2 linked regions of the Homo sapiens genome follow. The protein of the gene in region 1 purifies or fractionates together with the protein of each later gene. This does not show direct contact. Each region holds a gene or a part of one and is shown on either strand. Other genes may lie near its edges.

Region 1 (3,446 bases):
CATCAGATTCCTATGCCTGCTGCACAGTAGCTTACCAATATTTTGAGACAGCAGAGTTTGCAGCAGAGAGTTTAATGATCACAGGGTGGCTAAATGAGAAGCTAGGAGGAGATCCTCAAATTCATCTCCCCAAGGAGGAGATCCACTGAGGGTTTCCAGTGGATCCTGGATAGCAAGGGGCTGGAAAGTTGATATAGAGTTAAGAGGGATGAAGTCATCAGGATGTCAAAACTGCATTCTTTGGTGCGTTGGTGCCTTGTAGGGCCCTTCAGATCAGCTGGCATCAGTACTTTCACTGACATGCAGAACGTAAGAATATCTCAAATGAAAAAGTTAATGTTTTACAAGGCTTAAATTGTTGTCTGCAGGGCAGTTAAGGGGAACTGTAATCTAAGGTCTAAATGATTTGGGGACAGTAGGCTGCCAGCAACCATGAGGAAGAAGGTCAGAGAGCAAGCTGACCTCATGGTGAATGCTGAATGCGCTGCAAGCTTGGTTTATTTTTGTTTCTCCCCCTCCCTTCTTCACTGATTAAATTTATAAAGTTTATAGGTATCGTTTCAATTTCTTCCAAAGAAGCCTTAACCTAAGCACTGAGACCACTCACGCCCTGAGTGGCACCTCTCTTCCACCAGCACGAGTGAAGAAACTGCTACCTTAGGTGATATAAAACCCACAAGACCATTCCATACATGGAGATCTTTATTCTTATTTTGTAGGGATGACTCCGTTTTTATAAAGTTGTTTTAACTAGAAAGCATTTTTATAATTTTGATGTGGCCAAAGATCTCCCCACAACACTACTTTCAGGTTTTATTTTTCTGTCTAATGTCCGGAACAGATCAACCCCTTCCCTGCCTCACACTCAGGACCTGAAGGCGACATAGCAGTAAAATTCCATCAGTGTTTGTGGATTTCATGAATGAATGCATTTTTTTTTTGACAAAATCTCCCTCCGTCACCCAGTCAGGAGGGCAATGGTGTAATCTTGGCTCACTGCAAACTCAGCCTCCAGGGTTCAAGGGATTCTCCCACCTCAGCCACATGAGTAGCTGGACTACAGGCAGCCACCATCGTGCCTGGCTAACTTTTCTATTTTTGTAGAGACAGGGTTTCACCATGTGGGCCAGGCGGGTCTTGAACTCCTGACATCAGGTGATCCACCTACCTTGGCCTCCTAAAGTGCTGGGATTACAGGTGTGAGCCACCTCATCTGGCCTTGAGTGAATGAATTCTTGACTTCCACTCTATCCCTAACGCTGTCAATTTCTTAATTCATGAAATGAATATGCATATGTGATATGAATGGATACCTGGTTCAATCCATTAGTCTTCGGACAGCCAAAAACCCAATCAGGATTAACTGAGTGGAGCTTCAGAAATGCAATCAGATATCGCTTTTTGATTGGAAGCTAGCAGCGGATATGTGGAGGGGCGTGGGTGGGAGTTGTGATTAGAAAGGTCAATAAAAGCTTCTAAAGACCCACAGGACAGACTCAAAGTCTTCAAGCCTGGAGTTCCTGCTTGGCTCTTCCTGAGGTCTGAGCTACAACTACAACCAGAGGTCTAAACTACAACCAGATCTGGTAAGTCACTAATTTCTGGAAGGACACTCCCATCTGACCTACAGTCAGCCGGTCTAGAACGGTGACAGTGCAGCCTACGACGGCACAGAACTATATCCTGTCTTTTTTTCTTTTTTTCATATGAACACTTTGAAGCTTTGATTTTTTTTCTAAATGCAATTTTGTCTTTATTTCAAAAATGTTGTTGTGCTTTTCTTTACATCATTTCAGAATTCTTGTTGGGAGCCATTTTGTGAAGAGACGAAGACTGAGCTGTTTTGGCTGCATTTCTGGCCTCGAGCCGCAGTCAGTTTCTCCCCGTAGAACCCGGCAGTAGGAGACTTAGAATCGAATCTCTTCTCCCTCCCGCCTCCTGTTTTTGGCTTTTTGAGAAACCTTATCATCCAACACAATGGCCAGCAACGTTACCAACAAGATGGATCCTCACTCCATGAACTCCCGTGTGTTCATTGGGAATCTCAACACTCTTGTTGTCAAGAAATCGGATGTGGAGGCGATCTTTTCCAAGTATGGCAAAATTGCGGGCTGCTCTGTTCATAAGGGCTTTGCCTTCGTTCAATATGATAAGGAGAAAAATGCCCGGGCTGCTGTAGCAGGAGAGGATGGCAGAATGATTGCTAGCCAGGTTGTAGATATTAACCTGGCTGCGGAGCCAAAAGTGAACCGAGGAAACGCAGGTGTGAAACGATCAGCAGCGGAGATGTACGGCTCCTCTTTTGACTTGGACTATGGCTTTCAACGGGATTATTATGATGGAATGTACAGTTTCCCAGCACGTGTACCTCCTCCTCCTCCCATTGCTCTGGCTGTAGTGCCCTCGAAACGTCAACGTCTATCAGGAAACACCTCACGAAGGGGCAAAAGTGGCTTCAATTCTAAGAGTGGAAAGCGGGGATCTTCCAAGTCTGGAAAGTTGAAAGGTGATGACCTTCAGGCCATTAAGCAGGAGTTGACCCAGATAAAACAGAAAGTGGATTCTCTCCTGGAAAACCTGGAAAAAATTGAAAAGGAACAGAGCAAACAAGAGGTAGAGGTGAAAAATGCTAAGTCAGAAGAGGAGCAGAGCAGTAGCTCCATGAAGAAAGATGAGACTCATGTGAAGATGGAGTCTGAGGGGGGTGCAGAAGACTCTGCTGAGGAGGGGGACCCACTGGATGATGATGTTAATGAAGATCAGGGGGATGACCAGCTGGAGTTGATCAAGGATGATGAAAAAGAGGCTGAGGAAGGAGAGGATGACAGAGACAGCACCAATGGCCAGGATGACTCTTAAGCACATAGTGGGGTTGAGAAATCTTATCCCATTGTTTCTTTACCTAGGAGCTTGTCTAACAACAAATTTTTCACCAGATCCTCTCCCTTAGTATCTTCAGCACATGCTTACTGTTCTCCCCATCTTTGTCCTTCCCATGTTCATTAATTCATATTGCCCTGTGCCTAGTCCCATTTTCACTTCCCTTGACACCCCTAGTAGTTGTCCTAAGTCTTACCCTGTAATTTTTCCTTTTAATTTTGACACCTCTTTATGACTTAACAGTAAAAAGGATGTATGGTTTTTATCAACTGTCTCCAAAATAATTTCTTATTTTGTTTATTTAGTTTATTTATTTGTTAGTTTAGTTTAGTTTTGTTTATTTGTTATTTAGTTTACTGAGAATGATGTTTTCCAATTTCATCCATGTCCCTACAAAGGACATGAACTCATCATTTTTTATGGCTGCATAGTATTCCATGGTGTATATGTGCCACATTTTCTTAATCCAGTCTATCATTGTTGGACATTTGGGTTGGTTCCAAGTCTTTCCTATTGTCAATAATGCCGCAATAAACATACATGTGCATGTGTCTTTATAGCAGCAT
Region 2 (2,911 bases), on another chromosome or scaffold:
TGCAAGTGATTGATAAGAGCCAATCGTTTATTTTCACTGTCCCAGTCACAAGCTCTCCCTCTGTCCCCACTCCTGCCTGCTCCTACCTGCTGTGGAGAGCACCCTCGCGCTGCCTCCCCACCCTCCCCACACCACCTCATCACTCTCCTTTACTTGGCTGCCAGTCCAGCTGCCTCAGAATGTCAGAAGGGTGCCATTTTCAGTTCTTTTCCTGTCTGACTGTAGGGTATAGAACAGGCAGCCCTAAGTGCTGCTTTCTGCGCAAATGTTTTTTGATTACAAATCTCTAACTAGGTTTGAAATGTTTTATAGAATAAGACAATATTCTTTTCAACAAACTTTAAAAAAAATGTACAGTTTTGTTGTTTGTTTCCACCTCCCCCCTCCCCCACCCCTGCTTGAGCACCCTCCCCCCCCACCACCCCTCCCCGGCAGCTCAGCCCCACCCCGACAGCCCCTGTTTTCCTTGGTTGTGTTTTGCGGGGGTGCCTGGCACCCCCAGAGATTCAGCTTCATGGCTGACAGGTGACCATGGCAGGGGCTTCACCGATACCCTTGGTACCCGTAGTAATTCCTGTAGTATCGGTCTCTGTCCTGGGGGTGGTGGTAGTAGTAACTCTGCCACTAGAAGAGAGGGAAACCCCATCACTTGGAGCCAGAGCTGGCTGAGGATGAAGAGGCATAACACTCATCCTTCTGCTCCTGCCCCCCTTCACCCTGTGTCTATCCCAAGAAGATACTCACATCCCGATTGTATTGTCTGTAATAGTCTCTGTATCTGTTGTACTCATAATCTCGCCCGTAAAATCGATCATAGTCTCCCCTGTATCGATCATAGAAATTACGGTAACCCTGAGAAAGGAAAAGAAAAAGGAGTGAAGGTTTATGGGTTTTTGGCAGCATGACCCACCGTGACCCCCTTTTAAATGCGACACATCTTAGCTCGATATTATAAATTGGTTTAATTTTCCCATAGTAAATCTTCCAGAACATATTAAATGGGCAAAACCCTAAGCCCTAAGAAAACAGGCAAACCACTCTGCTCCCCCAAGCCAACAGAATGGCTCTCACAGCCCAGAGTGAGGAGCAGAAGGAGAGCTGCACTCACCCCTCTGTTTCCAGGCTGCCCCCAGTACTGCTGCCCGTAGGCCCGGTTGTCGTAGCCTCGGCGCTGCCCGCCCACTGGAAGAGAAATGGAGAGCGCGCTCAGACAGCTGGCATGGGGTCCTGGCTCCACATCTGGGTGGAAATCAAAAACTTGGAGCCAAAGGCAATTCTGGGGGAATATGAGGCCTGCTTCGGCCAGGCTCACACATGTTAATTAAAGCACCAGCCAGGAACTTTTAAAAAGTCTGAGGGGGGAGGGCAGAGGAACAGAGACACAAGAAAACCAAGCCACTTTGTTTTTGAAGCTCCCCAATTCCTGCAAAACATTTAAGATGGCAAAAGGATACATGGCAGAGTTAGAAACATAAGGAAAAACTGCCATTCATAGAATCAGACTTTCAGCCCTGGAAGGGATTTCAGATATCGTATAACCCATACCTATCATTTTATGCAAAAGAAACAAAGTCTCTGTAATCAGCTCCTCAAGGGCGGGAACTGTCAGCATTTACAGTACCTAGCACATAGCAGGCACTCGGAAATTCTGCTGACTTAACAGTTACACACACACATACACACACATTTTTAAAGAGCAGTGAATGCACACTGGGGTTTTAACTGACAAACTAGACATTCAGGGGGAAAATTAATTCTACTAATAGCCTAACTTGCTTGGTTAAGTTCTTCCCCCCACAAAAAACACTGAATAAAGCATTCGCTTTCTTGTTAATCGAAATGACACAGAAGCAAGAAAACTGAAGATGAGAATTTGATTTCACTGCACAAATCCTTCAGATAAGACAGGAACAGTGACACTGGGAACCCATATGTTAAAATGAAAACTAGATAGATGAGAAAGCCCAAGCATTGCTTTTCAAAGAAACAAATACTTTTGTGAAAAGTAACTCTTTTTTAAAAAAGAGGATTTTTGTTGTTGTTGAAGAATTATGGAAAAAGCACAAGAAAAAGGCAGGGATAAAGAACACAGGAAGAAATAAGCTCCATGAAGAAGGCACTTCCGTATTGTTAATGACCTGACTTGGTTTCCTTGGCCTTCCCTTGCACATCTTGCTGTACTAAGCACAAAGAATGGACTGAAGTAGGGGGCTGGCAGGTCCCCAAGACTCACCATAGCCTTGGCCCCGGCTTCGGTTCTGCCGGTTACGCTTGTTTCGGTTGTTTCGGCGATTTGTCCGCTTCTCGGAGGGGGGCAGAAGCTTCCTTGCCTCCTCCTTGTACTTAGTGACAATGGGCTGAGCTTCCTCCTTCTCCAGCTCCCCATATGTCACCTCATCCATATAGTCGCATTTTTCAGGCAAAGAGAAGTTGGCTATAAGAGTAAGAGAGAAGCTTGTGGGCCTGAAAAGTGCATAGATGGGTAAGAACTCATTATGAAAACTCTACAAGAAGCATATGACTTTCTATGCCTCATCTATTACTGCACAAAAATGTGCTACGTTTATACCCACTCGCATCTAAATAATGACATTAACTTTTTCTACTCTAAGTTTTCCCTAAATTGTAACAGACCCAGGCAAAGGGCTATGTAGATTTACAAGTTCTTAAGTGATCTATAATAAATTAGGAGTGAACTGGGTTAAAGTTTCTCATCAGGACAGAAGCAGGTAACCAGAGGCTAAAAGTAACTGAGAAAGTTCTGGTGTTGGTCAGATAAGATGCTAAGAAATAACATTTTAAAAAGAGACTCAGAGATGGCCGGGCATGGTGGCTCACGCCTGTAATCCCAGCATTTTGGGAGGCCAAGGCAGGCGGACTGCTTGAGGTCAGGAGTTCGAGACCAGCCTGG

Evidence for each region. The genes of interacting proteins can lie anywhere in the genome.
Region 2: the proteins of HNRNPCL1 (region 1) and HNRNPUL2 purify together in Homo sapiens (affinity purification with mass spectrometry; 2 studies listed by BioGRID and IntAct, with this or other methods). This does not show direct contact.

The regions. Positions count from the first base shown.
Region 1 is NC_000001.11:12,846,821-12,850,266, reverse strand, and holds HNRNPCL1 (heterogeneous nuclear ribonucleoprotein C-like 1), read left to right. Parts: upstream 1-1,546; 5' UTR 1,547-1,586; intron 1,587-1,796; 5' UTR 1,797-1,977; coding exon 1,978-2,859; 3' UTR 2,860-2,890; downstream 2,891-3,446. UniProt on the Homo sapiens protein: May play a role in nucleosome assembly by neutralizing basic proteins such as A and B core hnRNPs.
Region 2 is NC_000011.10:62,714,756-62,717,666, forward strand, and holds part of HNRNPUL2 (heterogeneous nuclear ribonucleoprotein U-like protein 2), read right to left. Parts: intron 2,435-2,911; coding exon 2,234-2,434; intron 1,183-2,233; coding exon 1,109-1,182; intron 853-1,108; coding exon 745-852; intron 625-744; coding exon 544-624; 3' UTR 1-543.